Linked DNA regions of Homo sapiens: regions 1, 3, 4 and 5 are each linked to region 2. The links come from fine-mapping of genetic effects on gene expression. A gene starts in region 2. Each other region holds a variant in brackets. All regions are shown on one strand. Distances are from middle to middle.

What was found. PIP is the estimated chance that this variant, and not a neighbour inherited with it, causes the effect.
Region 1: its variant is the best candidate, but not a certain one, in a credible set for the expression of TARS2 in sun-exposed skin (GTEx, PIP 0.69).
Region 3: its variant is the best candidate, but not a certain one, in a credible set for the expression of TARS2 in tibial nerve (GTEx, PIP 0.57).
Region 4: its variant is the best candidate, but not a certain one, in a credible set for the expression of TARS2 in monocytes (TOPMed, PIP 0.86).
Region 5: its variant is the best candidate, but not a certain one, in a credible set for the expression of TARS2 in cultured neurons (Aygun 2021, PIP 0.61).

The regions. Positions count from the first base shown.
Region 1 is chr1:150,518,870-150,523,704 of GRCh38, forward strand. FALEC (focally amplified lncRNA regulator of ECM1) reads left to right here. Exons shown (of 6, transcript NR_186305.1): 3 at 2,464-2,536. Among named protein-coding and RNA genes, the nearest start is that of FALEC, 5.5 kb to the left of the region's middle. The variant C/G (reference allele first, on the strand shown) is at 2,580.
Region 2 is chr1:150,485,153-150,489,987 of GRCh38, forward strand. TARS2 (threonyl-tRNA synthetase 2, mitochondrial) reads left to right here and starts at 2,267. Exons shown (of 18, transcript NM_025150.5): 1 at 2,267-2,364; 2 at 2,706-2,902; 3 at 3,812-3,935. The coding sequence starts at 2,299. LOC124904416 (a long non-coding RNA gene) reads left to right here. Exons shown (of 2, transcript XR_007066600.1): 2 at 1-202. RefSeq lists enhancers at 2,092-2,598, 2,092-2,361.
Region 3 is chr1:150,296,180-150,301,014 of GRCh38, forward strand. The region is part of intron 2 of MRPS21 (mitochondrial ribosomal protein S21); the gene reads left to right. Among named protein-coding and RNA genes, the nearest start is that of MRPS21, 4.7 kb to the left of the region's middle. RefSeq lists an enhancer at 863-1,420. The variant G/A (reference allele first, on the strand shown) is at 2,643.
Region 4 is chr1:150,275,294-150,280,128 of GRCh38, forward strand. It overlaps C1orf54 (chromosome 1 open reading frame 54), which reads left to right. Exons shown (of 6, transcript NM_024579.4): 3 at 448-506; 4 at 1,229-1,339; 5 at 4,350-4,448. The coding sequence ends at 4,445. The region is part of intron 1 of LOC124904414; the gene reads right to left. Among named protein-coding and RNA genes, the nearest start is that of CIART, 4.8 kb to the right of the region's middle. The variant T/A (reference allele first, on the strand shown) is at 2,830.
Region 5 is chr1:150,405,322-150,410,156 of GRCh38, forward strand. All of the region lies in intron 1 of RPRD2 (regulation of nuclear pre-mRNA domain containing 2), which reads left to right. Among named protein-coding and RNA genes, the nearest start is that of RPRD2, 44 kb to the left of the region's middle. The variant A/AT (reference allele first, on the strand shown) is at 2,837.

The DNA of each region.
Region 1 (4,835 bases), 34 kb after region 2:
AACATGGTGAAACCACGTCTCTACCAAAAATACAAAATTAGCTGGGTGTGGTGGCGTGCCTCTGTAGTCCCAGCTATTTGGGAGGCTGAGGCAGGAGAATCACTTGAACCCAGGAGGCAGAGGTTGCAGTGAGCTGAGATCATGCCATTGCACTCCAGCCTGGGCGACAAGAGTGAAACTCTGTCTCAACAAACAAACAAATTAATAATAAAAGTATGCAAAACATAAATGTATTATAGCTCAATGGATGGTTATAAAATGAACCTCCTGCAACAAATGCCTAAGTCAAGCCAAAGCATCCCAGAGGCCCCCACAGTGCTGCTTCCTGATGACGCCCTCCTCCCGTGCCCATGAAGGAATCCTGCTCCCTTGATATTTAGAGTTATCACTCAATCGCTTGTTAAAACTAGTTTACCCCTAAAAATGAACCCTAAAAGCAGTCATTTTGGATTTTGTAAACAGCTTTATTGGATATAATTCGCATACCATTAATTCACCCATGTAAAATGTACAATTCAATGGGTTTTGGTATATTACATTATTAATTTTTAAAAAGTATGGTAAAATAAATGTAAGGGCGGTGGCTCATGCCTGTAATCCCAACACTTTGGGAGACCGAGGTGGGCAGATCACCTGAGGTGGGGCGTTTGAGACCAGCCTGACCAACATGGAGAAACCCCATCTCTACTAAAAATACAAAATTAGGGCCAGGCACGGTGGCTCACGCCTGTAATCCCAGCACTTTGGGAGGCTGAGGTGGATGGATCATAAGGTCAGGAGTTCGAGACCAGCCTGGCCAAGATGGTGAAACCCCGTCTCTACTGAAAATACAAAAAAATTAGCCGGGCATGGTGGTGGGCGCCTGTAATCCCAGCTACTCGGGAGGCTGAGGCAGGAGAATCAGGAGAATCGCTTGAACCTGGGAGGCAGAAGTTGGAGTGAGCCGAGATTGTGCCTGGGCAACAAGAGCGAAACTCTGTCTCAAAAAATAATAATAAAATAGGCTGGCGCAGTGGCTCATGCCTGTAATCCCAGCACTTTGGGAGGCCGAGGCAGACGGATCACCTGAGGTCGGGAGTTCGAGACCAGCCTGACCATGGAGAAACCTCATCTCTACTAAAAATACAAAATTAGCCGGGTGTGGTGGTGCATGCCTGTATTCCCAGCTATTCAGGAGGCTGAGGCAGGAGAATCACTTGAATCCGGGAGGTGGAGGTTGTCATGAGCCAAGATCACACCATTGCATTCCAGCCTGGGCAACAAAAAGTGAAACTCCGTCTCAAAAATAAATAAATAAACAAATGTATGACAAAATTTGCCATTTTAACCATTTTTAAGTGTACAACTCAGTGGCATTAATTATATTCACAATATTGTACAACCGTCACCACTATCTATTCCAAAACTTTTCCATCACCCCAAACAGAAGCTCTGTAACCATTAAGCAATAACTGGCATCCCCCCTCCCTTTAGCCCCTGATAACTCCTAATATACTGTCTTTATGAATTTGCCTATTCTGGGTACCTCATATAATGTGCCTATAATATTTGTCCTTTTGCATCTGGCTTATTTCACTTAGCATAATGTTTTCAAGGCTCATCCATGTTACAGCATGTATCAGAACTTCATTCCCTTTTATGGCTGAATCATATTCCATTGTATGTGTATACATACAATGTGTGTATATGCCACATTTTGCTTATCCATTCATCTGTTGATGGACATTTGGGTCGTTTTCATCTTTCAACTATTGTGAATAATGCACAATTATTTCATTTTGCCAATTTTTGAACTTCATAAGAATGGAATCAGAATAATTACAACATATTTTTTGTGCATGTCTGACTTTTTAAATATGCATTCATGTTATTTTATATACCTGTAGTTCATTCATTTTCTTTTCTTTTCTTTTCTTTTTTTTTTTTTTTTTTTTTTTTTTTGAGACAGGGTTTTGCTCTTGTTGCCCAGGCTAGAGTGCAGTGGTGCAATCTTGGCTCAGCGCGATCTCAGCTCACTGCAACCTCCGCCTCCTGGGATTCTCCTGCTTCAGCCTCCCATGTAGTTGGGATTACAGGCGCCTGCCAATACGCCTGGCTAATTCTGTATTTTTAGCAGAGACAGGGTTTCTCCGTGTTGGTCAAGCTGGTCTCGAACTCCCGACCTCAGGTGATCTGCCTGTCTCAGCCTCTCAAAGTGCTGGGATTACAGGCGTGAGCCACCACGCCCGGCCTCATTTTCATATGGAATTCTATTTCAGAAATATGCCAATTTATCCATTCTACTGTTGATAGATACATGAATTGTTTCCAGTTTTAAGCTATTTCAAATATGCTATTATAAAAATGGTAGATATTGCATGAATTTCTGTCAGGTATACAGCTAGGAGTTAAATGGCTGGGTCAGAGTTTATTTGGCTTAACTAGAGAATGCCAAAGTGGTTGTACTAATTTTTCTTCCCACAGGCAGTGTATGAGAGTTCCACTTGTTCTACACCCTCTCCAATTCTTGAGGTTGTCAATGTGGTTAGCCATTCTGGTGAGTTTGTGGTGCAATGGTACCTCAGTATGGGTTTAACTTG[C/G]ATTTCTGTGTTTATAAATGAGGTTAAACACCTTGTGATATGTCAATTGATCATTTGGATATCTTCTGTGAGATGCCTGCTCAAGTCCCTTGCCTATCTTCTGAAAGTGTTATTGTTTTATTTGCTCATTTAAGATTGGTAACCACCTGGAGTTGATTTTGACATTTACTGGGAGGTAGAGGGTCATGATTCATATTATTCCGTTTGGAGATTCAGTTATTCCAGCACCATGTGTTGAAAAGACTGTTATGACCCCTCTGCAGGCCATGTTTGTCATAAATCAAGTGTCCATATTTGCATGGGTCTATTTATGGACCTTCCATTCTACTATCTGTTCCTCCTTGCACAATACTGCACAGTTGGTAGCTTTATATTAAAGTTTGATATTTATAGGCCAAGCACTCCCTCCCAATTTGTTCTTCAGGAAAGTCTTGGCTATTGTTTAATGACTGGACACAAATTGTAGGAACAGTATATACAGATTCTTTAAGTAAGTCTTAAAAATGGAAAAGCCACCCAGGTGTGGTGGCCCACTCCCGTAATCCCAGCACTTTGGGAGTCCAAGGTGGGCAGATCACCTGAGGGCAGGAGTTCGAGATCAGCCTGGCCAACATGGTGAAACCCCGTCTCTACTAAAAATACAAAAAAATTAGCTGGGTGTGGTGGCCTGTGCCTGTAATCCCAGCTACTCTGGAGGTGGAAGCAGGAGAATCGCGTGCACCCAGGAGATGGAGGTTGCAGTGAGCCGAGATTACGCCACTGCACTCCAGCCTAGGTGACAGAGTGAGACTGTCTCAAAAAAAAAAAAAAAAGAAAGAAAGAAAAGCCATGTTGTAATCCTTTTCTGAACAGTCATTCCAGTGACTTTCCAGCTTAGAAGTTGGTAGTGGTTGGCCGGGAGTGGTGGCTCACGCCTGTAATCCCAGCACTTTGGGAGGCCAAGGCAGGAGGATCGCCCAAGGTCAGGAGTTCAAGACCAGCCTGGGCAACGTGGTGAAACCCTGTCTCTACTAAAAATACAAAAAGTAGCTGGGCATAGCGGTGCATGCCTGTAGTCCCAGCTACTCAGGAGGCTGAGGCAGGAGAATCGCTTGAACCCAGGAGGGGGTGGTTGCCATGAGCCAAGATGGCGCCACTGCACTCCAGCCTGGGCAGCAAAGTGAGACTCTGTCAAAAAAAAAAAAAAAACAAGAAGTTGGCAGCACTGTCCAACACAGTAGCCACCAGCCACTTGTGACTACTGAGCACTTGAAATGTGATTGGTCTGAATTGCAGTGTACTGTAAGTGTAAAATACACAATGGATTTCTACAATAAAGGATGCAAGATATCAATATTTTTCCTGTTGTTTACATGAAAACTTGGAGGTATACTGGATTAATGAACTCTCTCTCTCTCTCTCTCTATATATATATATACGTATATATACATATATATATACGTATATATATATATACATATATATACATATATATATACATATATATGTGTGTGTGTGTGTGTATATATATATATATATATATATATATATATATATTTTTTTTTTTTTTTTTTGAGACAGAGTCTTGCTCTGTCACCCAGGCTGGATGGAGTGCAGTGGCATGATTTTGGCTCACTGCAACCTCTGCCTCCCAGGTTCAAGCGATTCTCCTGCCTCAGCCTCCTGAGTAGCTGGGACTACAGGCATGCACCACCATGCCCGGCTAACTTAATTTTTATATTGTTAGTAGAGATGGGGTTTTGCATTGTTGACCAGGCTGGTCTCAAACTCCTGACCTCAAGTGATCCGCCCACCGCAGCCTCCCAAAGTGCTGGGATTACAGGTGTGAGCCACTGCGCCTGGCATATATTATTAAAATTAATTTCATCTGTCTCATTTTACTTTTTTAATGTTACTAAAATTTTTTTAAATTACATATGTGGCGACCAGGCGCGGTGGCTCATGCCTGTAATCCTAGCACTTTGGGAGGCCAAAGGCAGGAAGATCACCTGAGGTCAGGAGTTCGAGACCAGCCTGACCAACATGGTGAAACCCTGTCTCTACTAAAAATACAAAAATTAGCCATGCATGGTGTGCATGCCTGTAGTCCCAGCTACTCGGGAGGCTGAGGCAGGAGAATGGCGTGAACCCGGGAGGCAGAGGTTGTAGTGAGCCAAGATCATGCCACTGCACTCCAGCCTGGGTAACAGAGCGAGACTCCGTCAAAAAAAAAAAAAAAAAAATTACATGTGTGGCTTACATTGGTGACTGGAATTA
Region 2 (4,835 bases):
TTCTGACACCTCTTCCTCTACAACCCTTGATTCTATCACCATTGAAACTTCAGAACCAACTCTAACCATCCCCACCTCCAGGTGAGGGGACTAATGAGAATTACTGACAGCCTGATGGCTACCCCCAAGTCAGTTTCCCTTCATACTTTACTACAAATCTGACCATGTTCCCATATTTACTGAGTAAATTTGATGAAATTTACCTAGTCCTGTGTCCTAGATGTATCAGGGAGAGGGAAGAGAAAGGATAAAGGAAGTTGAGAGCTGGGATAGGAATTAGAGGCAAAGGGCTTATGTAGGGAGCAGAGAGCTAAAATTCTAGTCAGGCACCTCTTTCTGAGGTGATGGGGGAGTATACTGGGAGCAAACTCTTCTAGAGAAAGCATGGTGTGGTAAAAGAAAACCAAGCTTGGATTCAGAAATCACCATCAGCACTTGCTGTTTGACCTTAAATTCCTCATCTGTCAGATTAAAAGGTCTCGGCCGGGCATGGTGGCTCACGCCTGTAATCCCAGCACTTTGGGAGGCTGAGGCAGGCGGATCACCTGATGCTGGGAGTTCGGGACCAGCCTGACCAACATGGAGAAACCCTGTCTCTACTAAAAATACAAAATTAGCTGGGCCTGGGGTGGCACATGCCTGTAATCCCAGCTACTCGGGAGGCTGAGGCAGGAGAAGCGCTTGAACCTGGGGAGGCGGAGGTTGCGGTAAGCCGAGATCACGCCACTGCACTCCAGCCTGGGCAACAAGAGTGAAACTCCATCTCAAAAAAAAAAAAAAAAGATTAAAAGGTCTATAAAGTCCCTATTAAGCACCATGAGTATAAAGGGACTCAAACTGACCTCTGCAGATTCTTGATTCCAGCTTTTTTGTTTTTGTTTTGTTTTGAGATGAAGTCTCGCTCTTGTCCCCCAGGCTGGAGTGCATGGCGTGATCTCGGCTCACTGCAACCTCCACCTCCCGGGTTCAAGCGATTCTCCTGTCTCAGCCTCCCAAGTAGCTGGGATTACAGGCGCCCACCACCATGCCCAGCTAATTTTTGTATTTTTAGTAGAGACGGGGTTTCACCATGTTGGCCAGGCTGGTCTAGAACTCCTGACCTCAGGTGATCCACCCGCCTCGGCCTCCCAAGTAGCTGGGATTACAGGCGCCCACCACCACGCCCAGCTAATTTTTGTATTTTTAGTAGAGACGGGGTTTCACCATGTTGGCCAGGCTGGTCTAGAACTCCTGACCTCAGGTGATCCACCTGCCTCGGCCTCCCAAAGTGCTGGGATTACAGCGTGAGCCACTGCGCGCGGCCATCTTTGCTCCAGCTTTAAAGTGGTTACTCCAGAGGCTGAGGTGGTCAGTTGAGCCCAGGAGGTCGAGACTGCAGTGAGCCATGATTGTACCCCTGCACTCCAGCCTGGGCAACGGTGAGACCTTGTCTCAAAATTAAAAAATAAAACTGTTACAGTCATTTATCATAATAGCTTCTTGTTGCTTTTGCCCATTACCAAAAAACCATGGGCCACACTAGACGATTTACATAAAATTTAACTCAACAATTGGGAGCAACACTATTCTCATTTTATAGTTGAGAAAATTGAGGCTTAGAGAAATTAAATAGGTCAGGCAAGGCGGCTCATGCCTGTAATTCCAGAACTCTGGGAGGCCGGAGCGCGGTGGCGGTTTGGTGGGGGGGAGGGGAGGGATTGCTTGAGGCCAGGAGTTCGAGACTACCCTGGCCAACATAGTGAGACCCGCCCCCCCCTCCCGCCCCCCCCGGTCTCTATTAAATAAATATGAGAAGTTTAATAATTTTCCCAAAATTACATAGTTAATGGCAGATCCAGAATTTACACTAGGTCTGTCTGGTTCCCCAGTCTATGCTCTTAAGTTTTGCTACTTGCTGTAAGGACCACGTAAAATAAAATGTATAGTTAAAGGGAAATTACTACCATTTCCTGTCTGGTTTTCTCCCACTCTCGCCCTCAAAAGTTCACCTGCCCTTGTCCTCAAAGCCACAGGACGCCTAATTGCTATTTTTGGGTTTCAGCTGAAACGCCACGGGTCTGGGGGAATAGCGAGGGTGTGTTACATTTTCGGTCTTCCGGTCAGCCGGAACCACTCACACCGCTGCTGGTGCTGTGTAGGGTGTACCTCTTCGGAGTTCCTGGAGGTGGTGCCAGACTAGAGTGGCAGCTGTAGTAACCAATAGACACGGACTTTGTTGGACCAGAAGCCAATGAAGAATTACGTGGAGGAGAAGCGGCGATAATCTGTTTGAGGATGTAGGCACTGGTGTGAAGGAACATGGCCCTGTATCAGAGGTGGCGGTGTCTCCGGCTCCAAGGTTTACAGGCTTGCAGGCTACACACGGTGCGTGAGGCACCCCCAAAGCTCCGATCCGCATCAGACTTAGCCCAGCCGAAGCCCCCAAATTTTTATGTTAACCCAGCCTCACGCCACTCCTCCTCTCCCTGGTCCTCCGAGTCCCCAGAAAAGGACTCGTATCTAAACTCGTTATCTAATTCTCGAGTTAGCGGTCTGGGGGACTCTGAGCTCGAAGGACCCCCAGCCTAGGGTCTTGTATCACCCAATCCCCTTAAAAAGTAGGAATTCGGACGAAGTCCACTTAACCATCCCAAAGTGCCATCATCTGCAATTCTAAGAAAGAATGATGGGACGTGTGTTACCTGCTAATATATCTTTCCCTCCAGGCAGTTGTGTCGACCCCTCCACGCTGGTTGGCAGAGCGGCTTGGCCTTTTTGAGGAGCTGTGGGCTGCTCAGGTAAAGAGATTAGCAAGCATGGCACAGAAGGAACCCCGGACTATTAAGATATCACTTCCTGGAGGCCAGAAAATTGATGCTGTGGCATGGAACACAACCCCCTACCAACTAGCCCGGCAGATCAGGTAACAGGCCCATCCTGTAACTACCAGGATTATCCTTCTGCCCCTTTACTTTCTCTTCACTTGAGCAGGGGAAGAAAACTTGGTCTGCTTGTTTCTGTTCCGTCCCCATTAAGATAGCCTTTCCTGAAGATTTTGTTTTTGTTTTTTGTTGTTGTTCTTTTATACAGACGGGGTCTCTCCATGTTGCCCAGGCTAGTCTTGAACTCCTGGGCTCAAGCGATCCTTCCATCTCAGCCTCCCGAAGTGCTGGGATTACAGGCATGAGCCACCAAACCCGGCCTGAGATTTGTTTTATCTGTATTAGTTTCTGCATCAGAGTCTCTGTCCTTTCATTGGGGAAAGAAATGAAAGCTTCTGTTGCTCTGGTAACTCATTTCACCTTTGCAAGTTTACAGTTGCTGAGAGATGAGCAACTTTCTCCCCACTGTGGATTGTAACCCTGTCTGTTTTAAATCATTAATTTACTTTTTAATAATTGATACATAATAATTGAACATATGAATGGGTATATGTGATATTTTGATATATGCATACAATATGTAATGATCAAATCAGGGTGTTCAGGATATCTGTTACCCCAAACATTTATCATTTCTTTGTGTTGGGACTATTTCAAATCTTCTAGCTATTTTGAAATATACAATAAATTATTATTAACTGTATTCACCCAACTCTGCTATGGAACATTAGAGCATATTCCTTCTGTCTAACTCTATTTTTGTACCCATTAGCCAACCTCTTCATCTCCCCTCCCCCATCCTTTCCAGCCTCTGGTAACTATCACTCTATTCTCTACCACTGTGAGATCAACTTTTTAAACTCTCATATAGGAATCAGAACATGTGATATTTTCCTTTTTGTGCCTTGTAACCCTGTCTTTTTCTTCATCCCCACCTTCCACTGCTGAAGTTCAACACTGGCAGATACTGCAGTGGCTGCTCAAGTGAATGGAGAACCTTATGATCTGGAGCGGCCCTTGGAGACAGATTCTGACCTCAGATTTCTGACATTCGATTCCCCAGAGGGGAAAGCAGTAAGTTTCTTTCTTATCAGGAATACAGTGACTACTAAACCAAGAGATATTGAAGCAGGAAATTCTAACATTTTATTCTTTTGCCGCAGTTTCTCCATTTGCAGTTGGGAGGGAGACCTACCACAGACTGTCTTGACTATTTCTGGTTAGGAAACTTATGGTGAAAGTTTTTAACTTAGCTTCGATCTATTAAGCAAACATTTGTGCTAGTGAGAGGGAGAGAGATGATATGTTGAAAAAACGAAAGGATAAATATGTAAATTCAGCCCCCTCAACTCTTGAGCACGTACATTATAAGTCATCTGTAGTGTATATTCAATTCTAACATGGCTTATACAGCTGAGCAAACAACCTGGTCACCTCCCCACCTTGTCTTCTTCATGTCAGCTCAGGTAGCACAGACCTTGCCTATTAGGATCCAGAAAAATAGAGTTCTCCTGCCATCTATGTGTAAATAGTGACCAAATCCAAGAGGAATATATCGCACTAGATTCGTGGGACAGAAAAAAATAGGACTAAAAGACCAAACAGAGACCTAAGTAACCACTGTGTTAAGAAGATAGCTTATTCTGGCCAGGCACAGTAGCTCACGCCTGTAATCCCAGCACTTTGGGAGGCCGAGGCAGGTGGATCATCTGAGGTCAAGAGTTCAAGACCAGCCTGGCCAACATAGTAGAAACCCCGTCTCTACTAAAAATACAAAAATTAGCTGGGCGTGGTGGTGAGCACTTGTCATCCCAGCTAATTGAGAGGCTGAGGCAGGAGAATTGCTTGAACCCTGGAGGCGGAGGTTGCAGTGAGCTGAGATCGCGTCATTGCACTCTAGCCTGGGCGACAGAGCGAGACTCCGTCTCAAAAAGAAAAATTATTCTGAAGCCCTAAAAGCTTACAGGAGCAGCA
Region 3 (4,835 bases), 190 kb before region 2:
CCTCGTGATCCACCCGCCTTGGCCTCCCAAAGTGCTGGGATTACAGGCATGAGCCACTGCATCCGGCCCAGCCCTAGTAGTACTTTACCACTGAATTCTCAAGCAAAAAGTTCTTAACCTTCCCTTCTCACCAGTTGTGTGGATTTTGACTTTCTGGTATGACTCACGCGTCATTTTCTTTCCCCAATGTGAAGTAACATTTGGAGAAACAAACGCTTGTTGAGTTGAATTATCAAAGAATTGTAAGGAAGGGGCTCCTGTAGTGCTAGCTGCTCCAGAGGCTGAGGCAAGAGGATTGCTTGAACCCAGGAGTTCAAGACTGTAGTGTGAGTGCACTCTTGTTGTGCCTGTGAATAACCACTCCACTCTAACCTAGGAAGCATAGTGAGACCATGTCTCTTAAAAAAAATGTAGGAAAGATATTGCATGGGCTGCATTAAGGCCTTTAATGTGGTAGCTTTATTTCACAAGTAAGGGAAGCCTTGGAAGATCAGATTATCTTTATTGGGTTATGCAGTTATTGAATGGTGGAGAGGAGCCTAAAGCACATCTTTTTAGTGCAATGTTCTTTAATAATTATTACTAGTCTTACTAGAAATGGAAAGACTTATGGTGGTTCATTTTCCAATTTAGAATCCTTGTCTTGTCATTTCAGCAGGTGTCGCTTTAAAAAAAAAACCAGAATCCTCATCTGATTGGGTTTAAATATTGGTAGGGTTCTTGAGGACTGAGAGGGCAAAGGAAAGGGAACCTAGTTCTTAGCAAAGCAGAGAGTTCTAGGTGTGGAAGGCTGGATGGCAGAAGACCACAGTGAGGAAAAAAATGCTGTCAGCCGGGCGCGGTGGCTCACGCCTGTAATCCCAGCACTTTGGGAGGCCAAGGCGGGCGGATCACGAGGTCAGGACATCGAGACCATCCTGGCTAACACGGTGAAACCCCGTCTCTACTAAAAATACAAAAGATTAGCCGGGCGTGGTGGCACACACCTGTAGTCCCAGCTACTGAGGAGGCTGAGACAGGAGAATCGCTTGAACCCGGGAGGAGGAGGTTGCAGTGAGCCGAGAGCGTGCCACTACACTCCAGCCTGGGCAACAGAGCGAGACTCTGTCTACAAAAAAAAAAAGAAAAAATGCTGTCAGAAGCTGTGTAAATGAGAAGCAGTTGCAGGCTCAGAATGGTTTCTATGTCTTTTAAAAGGATCTGGTCTTAGGGTCAGGCGTGGTGGCTCATGCCTGTAATCCCAGCACTTTGGGAGGTTCAGGCGGGTGGATCACCTGAGGTCAGGAGTTCAATACCAGCCTGGCCAACATAGCGAAACCCTGTCTCTACTAAAAATACAAAATTAGCCATATGTGGTGGCAGGCGCCTGTAATCTCAGCTACTTGGGAGGCTGAGGCAGGAGAATCACTTGAACCTGGGAAATAGAGGCTGCAGTGAGCCAGAATCGTGCCACTGCATTCCAGTCTGGGCCACAGAGTAAGACTCAAAAAAAAAAATCTGGTCTGGGGTCAGCCACATCACTTAATTCTATGTGCATAACAATTATATCCTTGGGCTGAAGCTGTTCCCTCTACATTGTCACCTATGCTGAGAGTAAAGATAAGTACCAGGTTGTAAGGTATCCTGTTTCATTTTTCTCTGTTTCTCCTCATTTCTAACTCTCCTATTTCATACCTTCTGGTGGCATGTCTGAGAAGTATATTATGTCTAATGACCTTTCTCTGGCCCTACTTTGCTATCTTGGAAGTACAAAATGAACTTTTTTTTTTTTGAGACAGAGTTTCACTCTTATTGCCCAAGCTGGAGTGCAATGGTGCCATCTCGGCTCACCGCAACCTCTGCCGCCCATGTTCAAGCGTTTCTCCTGCCTCAGCCTCCTGAGTAGCTGGGATTACAGGCATGCGCCACCAAGCCCAGCTAATTTTGTATTTTTACTAGAGATGGGGTTTCTCCAGGTTAGTCAGGCTGGTCTCTAACTCCCAACCTCACATGATCCACCCGCCTTGGCCTCCCAAAGTGCTGGGATTACAGGCTTGAGCCACTGCACCTGGCCTAAAATGAACGTCTTTATAGGTAACATCCAGACCCTGCAGTGAGTTAGCTAGGGAGATGAATGTTGAATTTGGGAAAAGGCATGTATTACGTGTAACTTCACTCTTTTTTTCTGACTTCTCCCTGTAAATCTTCTTCTGTATGATTTATTTTGGTAGATTTAGATAGGTCTTCTGGCCATGGTTGTTGAGATGTTTGTTATTGAAAGATCAAAGGATAGCTGTTGCTTAATGGTAAAACAAATTTCCAACAGGCTCAGTTTTAGTTCCCTTATTCCTAAAGTATAGATAACACAAAAGCAAGAATTTTGTTTTTAGAAAATTAGCTACTTTGACAAAAAACAACAAAATTTGTGGTACAGTATTATTTATTGAACCACTTTTTTTTTGAGACGGAGTCTCCCTCTGTCGCCCAGGCTGGAGCGCAGTGGCGCAATCTCTGCTCACTGTGACCTCCGCCTCCCGAGTTCAAGCGATTCTCCTGCCTCAGCCTCCCGAGTAGCTGGGACTACAGGCGCATGCCACTACCCCGGCTAATTTTTTGTATTTTTAGTAGAGACGGGGTTTCACCATGTTAGCCAGAATGGTCTC[G/A]ATCTCCTGACCTCGTGATCTGCCCACCTCAGCCTCCCAAAGTGCTGGGATTACAGGCGTGAGCCACCATGCCCAGCTGAACCACTTCTTACAGTTGTATCAAGAGAGTAGCGGCTGGGTGCAGTGCCTCAGTCTTGTATTCTCAGCAATTTGGGAGGCTAAGAATGGTGGATCACTTGAGGCCAGGAGTTCGAGACTAGCCTGGCCAACATGGCGAAACCCCGTCTTTACTAAAAATACAAAAATTAGCCATGCATGGTGGCACAGGTCTGTAATCCCAGCTACTCCGTAGGCTGAGGCAGAAGAGCCGCTTGAACCTGGGAGGCAGAGACTGCAGTGATGCCCCATATCATATATGGAATGCATCCCCATTTACACCTAAAATTTGAAACAGAATCTGAGAAACAAAATATTTCTAATCTCCTTCCTGATCCTCTTCACTGATACCAGGTTTGCAGAAAATATAAGGCCAGCTCTTATCTTTTGAGAGAAGACTCTTATTTCTTTGTCTAAGATTGTCTATACCCCTTTTTATCTGCCTCTTTTAAAAATCCTTGTCCAGCCACTATATTTTTAATTTAATCAACACTCAGTTTTTGCTTTTCCTGTTTTTTTTTCTGTTTTTTGTTTGTTTGTTTGTTTGTTTGTTTGAGACGATGTCTCGCTCTTGTCCCCCAAGCTGGAGTGCAGTGGCATGATCTCGGCTCACTGCAACCTCCGCCTCCCAGGTTCAAGTGATTCTCCTGCCTCAGCCCCCCGTGTAGCTGGGATTACAGGCACTTGCCACCACGCCTGGCTAGTTTTGGTATTTTTAGTAGAGACGGGGTTTCACCATGTTGGCCAGGCTGGTCTCGAACTCCTGACCTCAGGTGATCCACCCGCCTCTGTCTCCCAAAGTGCTGGGATTACAGGTGTGAGCCACCACACCCAGCCCACATACTACTTTTATGGTTCTCTTTTTGTTGGTGACTGGCATTTTACACAAACCTATTTCCTGGGTCGAAGTGTTAATATTAGAGAGCCGGAGAGTGGTCAGTGTGACACCCTGTGGTTTCAACCCTGGCTGCCTATTAGGATCACCTAGGGAACGAACCATCAAGAAAACAAAACTAATGCCAGGGCCCAATCTGAGATGAATCAGAATCTCCAGGGGTTGCAACCTGGATGGCAGCATTTTAAAAAACATACCATGAGATTTCACCAGGATTGAAAATTATTATAATAGACTTGTAGCCTCCTGGCTGGGCACAGTGACTCATGCCTGTAATCCCAGCACTTTGGGAGGCTGAGGGGGGCGGATCATTTGAGGTTAGGAGTTCAAGACCAGCCTGGCCAACATGGTAAAACCCCGTCTCTACTAAAAATATAAAAATTAGCCGGGTATGATGGTGCATACCTGTAATCCCAGCTATTCGGGAGGCTGAGGCAGGAGAATCGCTTGAACCTGGGAGCTGGAGGTTGCAGTGAGCCGAGATCGCGCCACTGCACTCCAGCCTGGGTGACAAAGTGAGACCCTGTCTCAAAAAAAAAAAGGCTTGTAGCCTCCTTAAGGACAGAAACCTATGCTTTTTCATTTGTGTATCTCTTGGATTTACCAAAGTGTCTGGCACATCCAAAGCTCTCATTAAATGTCTACTTAATGAACATAAATGTTCCTTTATCTTTTTTGTCACTTATTTAATGTTTGTCAAACTTTTTTACTGAAGTGTCGTTAACAGCAGAGGAGAGTGAATGAACTATAGGGGTTCTGCTACTATAAGCAAACATGGAATTTCTTTGAAGCTTCCCTAAATTAAAATGTAAGGTGAACTTCGTATTCGTTGCCATTGCATCTGTTTTATGGGTAACACCCCCACTCCTTCGAGTTAAAATTGGTGCCTCCAGGCAGATGCATCAAATTTGTCCAGAAACTTGTATCCTTTGGCATTCTGTTAATTACCCTGGTTAAGAAGCACAGTATTACCTTTTCTTCAGGGATTAAAACACCAAAGTAGGAGTAGGATTTGGAAAAAAGCAATTTACATTGCTTAAAAAGAAAAGAATTATATTCTTTTCTTTTTAAGAAAGAAGAGGAGTGGTTAGAAAAATAAATTTGGCCAGGCGCGGTGGCTCACCCCTGTAAGCTCAGCACTTTGGGAGGCCGAGGCGGGTGGATCATCTGAGGTCAGGAGTTCAAGACCAGCCTGGCCAACA
Region 4 (4,835 bases), 210 kb before region 2:
CCAAAGTGCTGGGATTACAGGCTTGAGCCATCGTGCCCGGCCAAATTTTTTTTTTTTTAATTAGCTGGGCATGGTGGCACATGGCTGTAGTCCCAGCTACTCAGGAGGCTGAGGCAGGAGGATCACTTGAGCTCAGGAGCTGGAGGTGGCAGTGAGCTATGATTGAACCAACTGTACTCCAGCCTGTTAACACAGTGAGACCCTGACTCTAAAAAAAGAAGAACTTGAAAATTTTTCAAATTTGTAAATTATTTTAGATACCTACATTGAAAATATAAATGCATACACATTCACAGTCATTTTTAACATTAGTTAAATAAAATTGGATTATACCAATAAATGTTACAACTTAAGTTAAACTATTCTGAGTAATTTCTTCCCTTTTCATTTCCAGATCTAGAGTTACATTTTTCTTTAATTATTACTGATTTTCTTTCTCCTCTGCAGATGACTTTAGTGCAGATTTCACCATTGATTACTCCATATTTGAGTCAGAGGACAGGCTGGTGAGTGAACTCTACATCTAAAAGGGTTAGGATAAGTAACAATTAAAAAGAAACTGGCCGGGCGCAGTGGCTCATGCCTATAATCCCAGCACTTTGGGAGGCCAAGGCGAGTGGATCATTTGAGGTCAAGAGTTTGAGACCAGCCTGGCCAAAATGGTGAAACCCCGTCTCTACTAAAAATACAAAAACATTAGTTGGACATGGTAGCATATGCCTATAATCCCAGCTACTCAGAAGGCTGAGGTAGGAGAATCACTTGAATCCGGGAGATGGAGGACGCAGTGAGCCAAGATCGTTCCACTGCACTCCAGCCTGGGTGACAGATCCAGACTTCATCTACAAAAAAAAAAGAAAAAAGAAAAGAAAAGAAACTGGGCAATGTTGAAATGTATCTGATTAACAAGAATAAAAATGAGTTTGATGAGGAGAAACTAAGTAGTAGGCCCAAAACAGATTTGTTAACCTATCTGGGGAGGAGAAAAAAGCCAGAACTTTATAAATTGTCCTCAGTAAGTTTGCTAAGACACTGAGGAGGGGCATCAAGGGACTTTTGAATGAGATGGGTACAAATCTATGCAAGCATAGGGTAGGGGGGAATCCCTGAGCTTAAGTCTTTGGGCTGGGTGGAGGTGGTGAAGGGGAGAACTTTAAGTAGAGAATCTATGAAGATGTTGGATGGAAAAACTGATAACTCTGTGTTTCCCAAATCCTACTGAGGGTAGAACAGGTTGGATAAGGACATAACAGAAGCAATAGAGACTACCATTAGTCTTGAAACAGCACGTGCAGACCATCCGAAGCCTGTAACTGTGAAACCAGTAACAACGGAACCTGTGAGTTGATTGGGGATTGGGGGCTGGGGGGAGACAGGACATCCCTAGTGACGTGGAATACATAGAGGGCTGGAATACCAGGCTTTGGTGGATGGGAGAACCAAATAATTAGTACTTCATTGCAGGTATTCATCTCAACTTGGCCATGTTTCACTAAGATTTAATACTAACCCTGTTTACAGAACACTGGGAAGATATGGTACAGTTAAATTTCAGTTCAGTAGTATTCAATAGGTATGTAATCTATGCCTAAGGCTGCTAAGGTAACTGATGCTGATAAAAAAGAAATCTATGTTACTGTCCTCAAGGATTTATAAAATTCAAGTTTACGAAACACTTAGAACAAAATGAAAAGGTATGTTATGATGTTAAATTATATATAAATTTGAAAGCAGAAGATACTGGCAGTGCTTTAGCCAATGTAAGAAGAGAGATTAGTACAGGCTAGAGTTGTCTGAAAAGCTTTCAAGAGGCATTTGTGCTTGAGATACACCCTGAAGAATAGATGAGCTTTTGATTGGTGGGTAGTTATGGAAGGACAGAAGCAATTAGGAGGAAGAATAGTTATTCCAAGAGTGAAAGAGGCCAGGTATGGCGGCTTATGCCTGTAATCCCAGCACTTTGGGGAGGCCAAGGTGGTCGGATCACTTGAGGTCAGCAGTTCAAGGCTAGTTCAATGGCCAACATGGTGGAAACCCCATCTCTACTAAAAATACAAAAGTTAGCCAGGCGTGGTGGTGCGTGCCTGTAATCCCAGCTACTTGGGAAGCTGAGGCATGAGAATCACTTGAACCCGGGAGGCAGAGGTTGCAGTGAGCCGAGATCACGCCACTCTACTCCAGCCTGGGCGACAGAGTGAGACTCTATACTAAAAAAAAAAAAAAAAAAAAAAAAAGAGTGAAAGAGCTGCACAGGAGGGGGGAATAGAACAAGCATAATATGTTTAGCAAATAGGGTATGATTGAAGGAGAGGGTATATGGAAGGGAACAGTGGGAATTAAGAAAAATATAAAATTTACAAGGCTCCTAATACTTGCTTAGTAATTTCACATGTGGCAACATAGGGGCAAATTTCAGAGAGTCTCAGGTGTCAGGCTGAAGTCTGGACTCATAATCAACAAGGAGCCTAGTAAGTTCTTCATTATGGTAAAAACACGATGAAAAGTGATATTTTAGAAAAACCGGCCAGGTGTGGTGGCTCACGACTGTAATCTCAGCACTTTGGGAGGCTGAAGTGAGCTGATCACCTGAAGTCGGGAGTTCGAGACCAGCCTGACCAACATGGAGAAACCCTGTCTATAGTAAAAATACAGAATTAGCTGGGTGTGGTGGCACATGCCTGTAATCCCAGCTACCTGGGAGGCTGAGGCAGGAGAATCGCTTGAACCTGGGAGGCGGAGGTTGCAGTGAGCCGAAATCGCGCTATTGCACTCCAGCCTGGGAAACAAGAGTGAAACTCCATCTCAAAAAAAGAAAAAGAAAAACCACTC[T/A]TCAGGTTGTATGCAGGATGTAAATAATTTAGTGGAAAGCAACTCATGAGATTTGCGTTGTTCCAGAAACAATCTGTACTCTGGCATTATGAATGGAGAGGAGAAAAATAAATATTATGAAGAAAATACCTTGCTTGAGTGATAATTTTATATGAAGTATAAATGAGGAGTGAGTTAAAATAACTCATGGGTTTTAAACATGGATGTCTGGGAAAATGGTTGACCAAAGTGGGAACTATGGGAGGCCAGAGTGGTTTAGGACAGAAGTTATTAATTTGGTAATGGCCAAGCTGAGTTTATGGTGACAGCCCTATGAGGGTGTCCTAAAGGTCACTGAACTAGATCAGGGCTAGAGTTCTAAGTGCAAAGTCACAGATATGAAAGTAAATGAGCTCAACAGAGCCAGTACACACAAGCTCAGAAGGCCAGTGACTGTGCCTGTAGTGAGTGGGAGGAAGAGAAATTAATGAATGGAATGGAGAAGGATTTGACTGGAGAAGTAGGCAGATAGCCAAGTTTGTATTATAGAGTCTAGAAGAGAAAGTTTAATATAATCCATCAAAAGCTACCAAGAGGCCAAGGAGGAGGAGGTCACTTGTAACTCTCAAGAAAGTAGTTTTAACTGAGTGCTTGGAGAAAAGCTAGATTTTTGTGGAGTTAAAGAGTGAGTACATTATGAGGAAAGGGAGGTGAGTACAGACCAACCATCTAAAAAATCTGGTAATGAAAAAGAGAAGCAACGGCTGGAAAGGGGAATAGGACCAAAGAGCAGCCTGCATATAGTTGAGCACAGATGAAAGAAGCCAGTAAGAATGGAAGTGAAAGATTGACAATAAGGGCAGTTAATTCTTTTTGAAGTATACAGTAGGCTGGGCGCAGTGGCTCACGCCTGTAATCCCAGCACTTTGGGAGCTGAGGTGGGCGGATCACCTGAGGTCAGGAGTTTGAGACCAGCCTGGCCAACATGGCAAAACTGTGTCTCTACTAAAAATACAAAAATTAGCCAGGCATGGTGGCGGGTGCCTGTAATCTCAGCTACTTGGGAGGCAGGCAGGAGAACTGTTTGAACCCTGGAGGTAGAGGTTACAGCGAGCTGAGATTGCACCACTGCATTCCAGCCTGGTGGATATAAAAATAATAATAAATAAACAAACAAATAAATAAAATATAGAGTAGACTCTCTTTAGATTGTAAATTCCTTGAGGACAGGAATCTTGTCTTATTCATATTTATGTCCCTTTCTATAGCACCTAGCACAGTGACTAGTATAGTATAATGCACATAATAGATAAAAAATAGAAACAATTGAATTGAATTGGCCTCCCTGGTATGGTCAGGGATAGCTGAAAGGCACAGAAGGACTCCTTACAGTGATGGGGAAGGATGGATCTTTCTCTAAGCCCAAAGGAAAGGAAGACAGAGGTTGTTGTAAAGAGGTGGCAGTCTTTCTGGAGGGGGACAGAGAAGTGGTAGGAGGAATGACACCAGCCTACTGTGTGGGGATGTCGGTATTTTAGCAGAGTCCAGATCTGAACGATGCCGTGTCCAGTTTGCGAAGTCCTATTCCCCTCCTCCTGTCGTGTGCCTTTGTTCAGGTGGGGATGTATTTCATGTAGAAGGTAAGAGTGCAGCCACTGGCTTTGGGGGAGTCTGTGAAATAATATTTTTTAACTTCCCACACTAAACCGAAGTAATTCTTACCAGTATCTCTAGTTAGTGTTTCCAGCCTGGTCAATTATCAGCCACTGAAGGAAGAGATTTAGGCTCATCCCTATAATCCCAGCACTTTGGGATGGTGACGTGGGAGGATCGCTTGAGCCCAGGAGTTCCAGACCAGGCTGAGCAACATAGTTTAAGTCCAGGCTGAGCAACAGACCTTGTCTCTACAAAAAAATTAAAAATAAATAAATAAGAACTCCTCTACAAGACGTTAAAAAAATTAAAAATAAAAATTAGTTGGGTGTGGTAGCACAGGCCTGCAGTCCCAGCTATTGGGGGGGATGGGG
Region 5 (4,835 bases), 80 kb before region 2:
CTCAGGACTTGGCTTCTAAAGTCAGTACATAAAATGAAATTAGGCTTGAAAATACTGGAAATTTTTAGTAATGACAAAATTTTTTATTTTTTTTTGGTAAATAGCCTAGTACAGAAATATATATATGCATGATTTGTGCTATATTTGGTAGCATATAATTCCGTAGGCTGAATCATATTAAGAGAGTAAATCAGCTGAATGTTTTGATGCTTGGAACATGAAGCCGATTTAGGGAGAGTCAAACTTCCTGGTTTCTCTCTCTCTCATCATCTTTATGAAGATAATATTTCTTCTGGTTCTTCATCAGTGAGTATTTCTCTATGGCCTCAAATGTCTTTCTGATAATTACAGTTTCACTTTCCTGGTTAACCATGCCTAAAATATTAAATGGAAAATTGTAGAAATAAACAGTTCATAAGTTTTAAATTGTGCACCATTCTGAGTAGTATAATGAAATCTCATGCCATCTTGCCTGGGACAGGAATCCTCTCTTTGTCCTTTGTATCCATGCTGTTGACGCTTCCCACCCATTAGTGCCCCTGTTATATTGACCGCCAGGGTATTGCAGTGTTTGTGTTCAAGTAATCCTTAGTTTACTTAATAACGGTCCCAAAGCGCAAGAATAGTGATGCTTTTAATTTGGATATGCCAAAGAAAAGCCGTTAAGTGCTTCCTTTAAGTGAAAAGGTTAAAGTTCTTAATAAGACAATGAATCATATGCTGAAGTTGCTAAGATCTGTGATAAGAATGAATCTCCTATCTGTGAAATGATGAAGAAGGAAAAAGAAATTCGTGCTAGTTTTGCTGTTGCACCTCATACTGCAAAAGTTATGGCCACGGTGCTTGATTAACTGCTTGGTTAAGATGAAAAGGGCATTAAATTTTTGGTGGAATATATGAACAGATATGTGTTTCCGTTGACAGCAGTCAGGTTCTGTACTGTCTGGTTTCAGGAATCCACTAGGGGTCTTAGAACATATACCCCCATGTTAAGGAGGGACTACTGTAATTGCCTTTACCCCTGAATATTTGTTTAGGGTTCTTGTTAATTGTTTTCTCTCTCACACTCTGGCTTAGTACTTACAGGTAAAAAAATTTTTTTGAGACAAGAGTCTCTCTCTGTTGCCCAGGCTAGAGTGCAGTGGCACAATCTCAGCTCACTGGAGCCTCTGTCTCCCAGGTTCAGGTGATTCTCCTGCCTCAGCCTCTTGAGTAGCTGAGATTACAGGCATTTGCCACCATGCCTGGCTAATTTTTACTATAGATGGGGTTTCACCATGTTAGTGAAGCTAGTCTTGAACTCCTGACCTCAAATGATCCTCCTGCCTAGGCCTCCAAAAGTGCTGGTATTACAGGAATGCGCCACCACGCCCTGCCAAGTACTTACAAGTAAATTCTTTTTTTCTTTTTGAGATGGAGTTTTGCTTTTGTTGCCCAGACTGGAGTGCAATGGCGTGATCTCGGCTCATTGCAACCTCCGTCTGCTGGGTTCAAGTGATTCTCCTGGCTCAACTTCCCGAGTAGCTGGGATTACAAGCATGTGCTACCACGCCCGGCTAATTTTGTATTTTTAGTAAGAGACAGGGTTTCTCCATGTTGATCAGGCTGGTCTCGAACTCCTGACCTCAGGTGATCCGCCCGCCTCGGCCTCTCAAAGTGTTGGGATTACAGGCGTGAGCCACCATGCCTAGCCAGTAAATTCTTGTAAGTTCGAATATGGTATGACCTCTAGTAATGTACATCTCTTGATGTCTCTAATTTCTGTATTAGTATATTCTTTGTACTTCATTCTGTAGAGCATATGGTATTCACATAATACTTTTGGTTATTGGGTATGGCACATACAGTGCTAGGGTTCTCATTGTTTCTCAGTCCCAACAAGAACATCTCATCAGAGGAGTTTAAGGTACATTTTAAGTTCATTCATTAGTATCTCCCCAGATAAACTTAATTGTAAGTCTGAATCCCTAAGCAAGAAATTAAGGTACTCCTTTAAAAAATACATTATTTAGTAAACAAAGCATCTCTGACTTCTATACATACAGCACCATTTGTTCAGTGTTTTCAGTTCTTAAAAAAGAAATAAAATTATAACATTTAGATCCAAAAGGGGCCTTAGAAACTTTTTTGAGTACATTCATTTTACATAGACTTAGGCTAGTTGCGTCTTAGCTCAGCCTAACGTATGTGACCACCTGACCTGATGTGATGCCCTTTCACTCTCAAAATGTAACAGTTTGAATGATAATGTACTCATCCTCACATAGTGGTGGAGGAGTATGGCACTCAGATTTTCTACGTAGTTCAGTGTTCTTTCTGCTACCTTGATACTTTTTCAGATAATTTTTTCTTGTTAACCCTCAACAAAGCAACTAAGTGATTTTAAGGAAGTTGGGAGATTTATCTTTTTAAAGAGAAGATGTAGATTCTTTGAAAAAAGATGTTGTTTTCTTCTATTTAAATATTCAAGTGACACTGCCATTATTTGTACTGAGTGTCCTTACAGTTAAATATTTATTTAATCATAGGATATTGAAGCCAGAGGGTATGTTATGGACGATCTAATCTAAACTAGTTATTTTATATGGGTTTTTTTGTGTGTGTGGAGACAGGACCTTGCCCTGTCATTCACCCTGGAGTATAGTAGCACAACTATGGCTCACTGCAGCCTTGACCCCCCGGGCTCAACCGATCCTTACATCTTGACCTCCCAAAATGTTGGGATTATGGGTGTGAGCCACCACACCTGGCCTATGCTTTTATTTTTTATATAAAGGTATTATAATTGTAACATAGAAAGTTTAGAAAATAACATTTATTTTAAAATATTCATATG[A/AT]TTTTTTTTTTTTTTTTTTTTTTTGGAGACAGAGTCTCACTCTGTCGTCCAGGCTGGAGTGCAATGGCGCAATCTTGGTTCACTGCAACCCCTGCCTCCCAGGTTCAAGCGATTCTCCTGCCTCAGCCTCCCGAGTATCTGGGATTGCAGGTACCCGCCACCACGGCCAGCTAATTTTTGTATTTTTAGTTTCACCATGTTGGTCATGCTGGGCTCAAACTCCTGACCTCAGGTGATCTATCCGCCTCGGCCTCCCAAAGTGCTGGGATTATAGGCATGAGCCACCGCGCCTGGCCCGCCTATACATTTAAATAGTGTATTTACATAATTTACATAATGGTATATGTACATTTTTCTTTCCTGTGTTTTCACGAACTCTCATGCAAGCATCTTCATGTTATTTACAGACATGTACTTATCATCCATATAATATGGATGTACCTTTACATATACATTTAAATAGTGTTTTACATAATGGTATATGTACATTTTTCTTTCCTGTGTTTTCACTAACTCTCATGCAAGCATCTTCATGTTATTTATAGACATGTACTTATTATCCACGTAATATGGATGCACCTTTACCTAACTATTCCCCTGTTACTATTCTTTAGGTTGCTTCTAGTTTTTCTACAACTATAAATAACATTTTTGTCCATGTGGCTTTTTCTTCTTTTTGTTTTTCCTTTCTACAGCCTGTTTTGCAAATGAAGACAGACCTAAGCTAATGAAAATGAATCTTTTTCAGGGGTTACATCTCAGATCTTTGGACTCTCGTGCTGATGCCCTTTCCATTATACCATAATGCTTGTTTTCTGTAAAGACTACATGGATTGAAAACACTGTATCAGCTGTCTTAGCCCATTGTTGGAACAAGGCAAGGTAGACATAAAATGTAAATAATTCAAGTTAAAAATTATCTAACCCGTCTCCTACCAAGTTAACAGTTTTATTTTGTAGGTACTTAGACTTAAATCAGTAACCTTCCAGTTTCCTATTGTTAATTCCTTTCCCCTTCTGCATAATAATTAAAGCTGAATGCTTAGCTTGTAGATTGTTGAGGAATTGATGTTGTGAGAACACTGACTATATCTAGATTAACTTCTGCAACAGCCCCTAGAATACCTCATTGTACCTAGCCCCTACCTAATGCTGTGCATTTACAGAGAAGTCTTAGGGGATTGTTAGCCAAACTGAATAGAGGACTACTCTATTTTTCCCCTTTTCTTGTCTTCCTTCTCTTTTTTTTTCCTAATTTATTTATTCAAGAAGTAGTTACTGAACGCCAACTAAGTGTTAAGCACTATTCTAGGTGCTGAGAATTCAGCAGTAAATAAAACTGACAAAAATCCTTTCCCTTATGAGCCTATATTCTCGTGGGGGAGATAGGCAAAAAATAAATTGTATAGTATATTGGAAAATTATGTGTTATTTGGGAGAATAAAGCAAAGAAGGGTGGTAAGAGTGTTGTTGGCTTGATGTTGCAATTCTTTTTTTTTTTTTTTTTTTGAGTCGGAGTCTTGCTCTTTCACCCAGGCTGAAGTGCAGTGGCGCAATCTTGGCTCACTGTAACCTCCGCCTCTGGGTTCAAGCGATTCAGCCTCAGCCTCCTCAGCAGCTGGGATTACAGACGCATGCCACCACACCCGGCTAATTTTTGTATTTTTAGTAGAGAGGGGGTTTCACCATGTTGGTCAAGCTGGTCTTGAACTCCTGACCTCAGGTGATCCACCCATCTTGGCCTCCCAAAGTGCTGGGATTATAGGCGTGAGCTACCGCACCTGGCCTGATGTTGCAGTTTTAAGTAAGGTAGTCAGGAACATATTCACTGAGAAAGGAACATTTGAGCAAGATTTAAAGGTGGTGATTGAACGAGCCATGAGAAAAACGGGGGAAGAAAGTTCCAGAACAGTGAGCTTAACAGACCGTGAAGCAAGGACTCACCCAGGTGTGTTGGAGGCCTTGTAAAGACAGCAAGGTGGCCTCTGTGGCTACAATG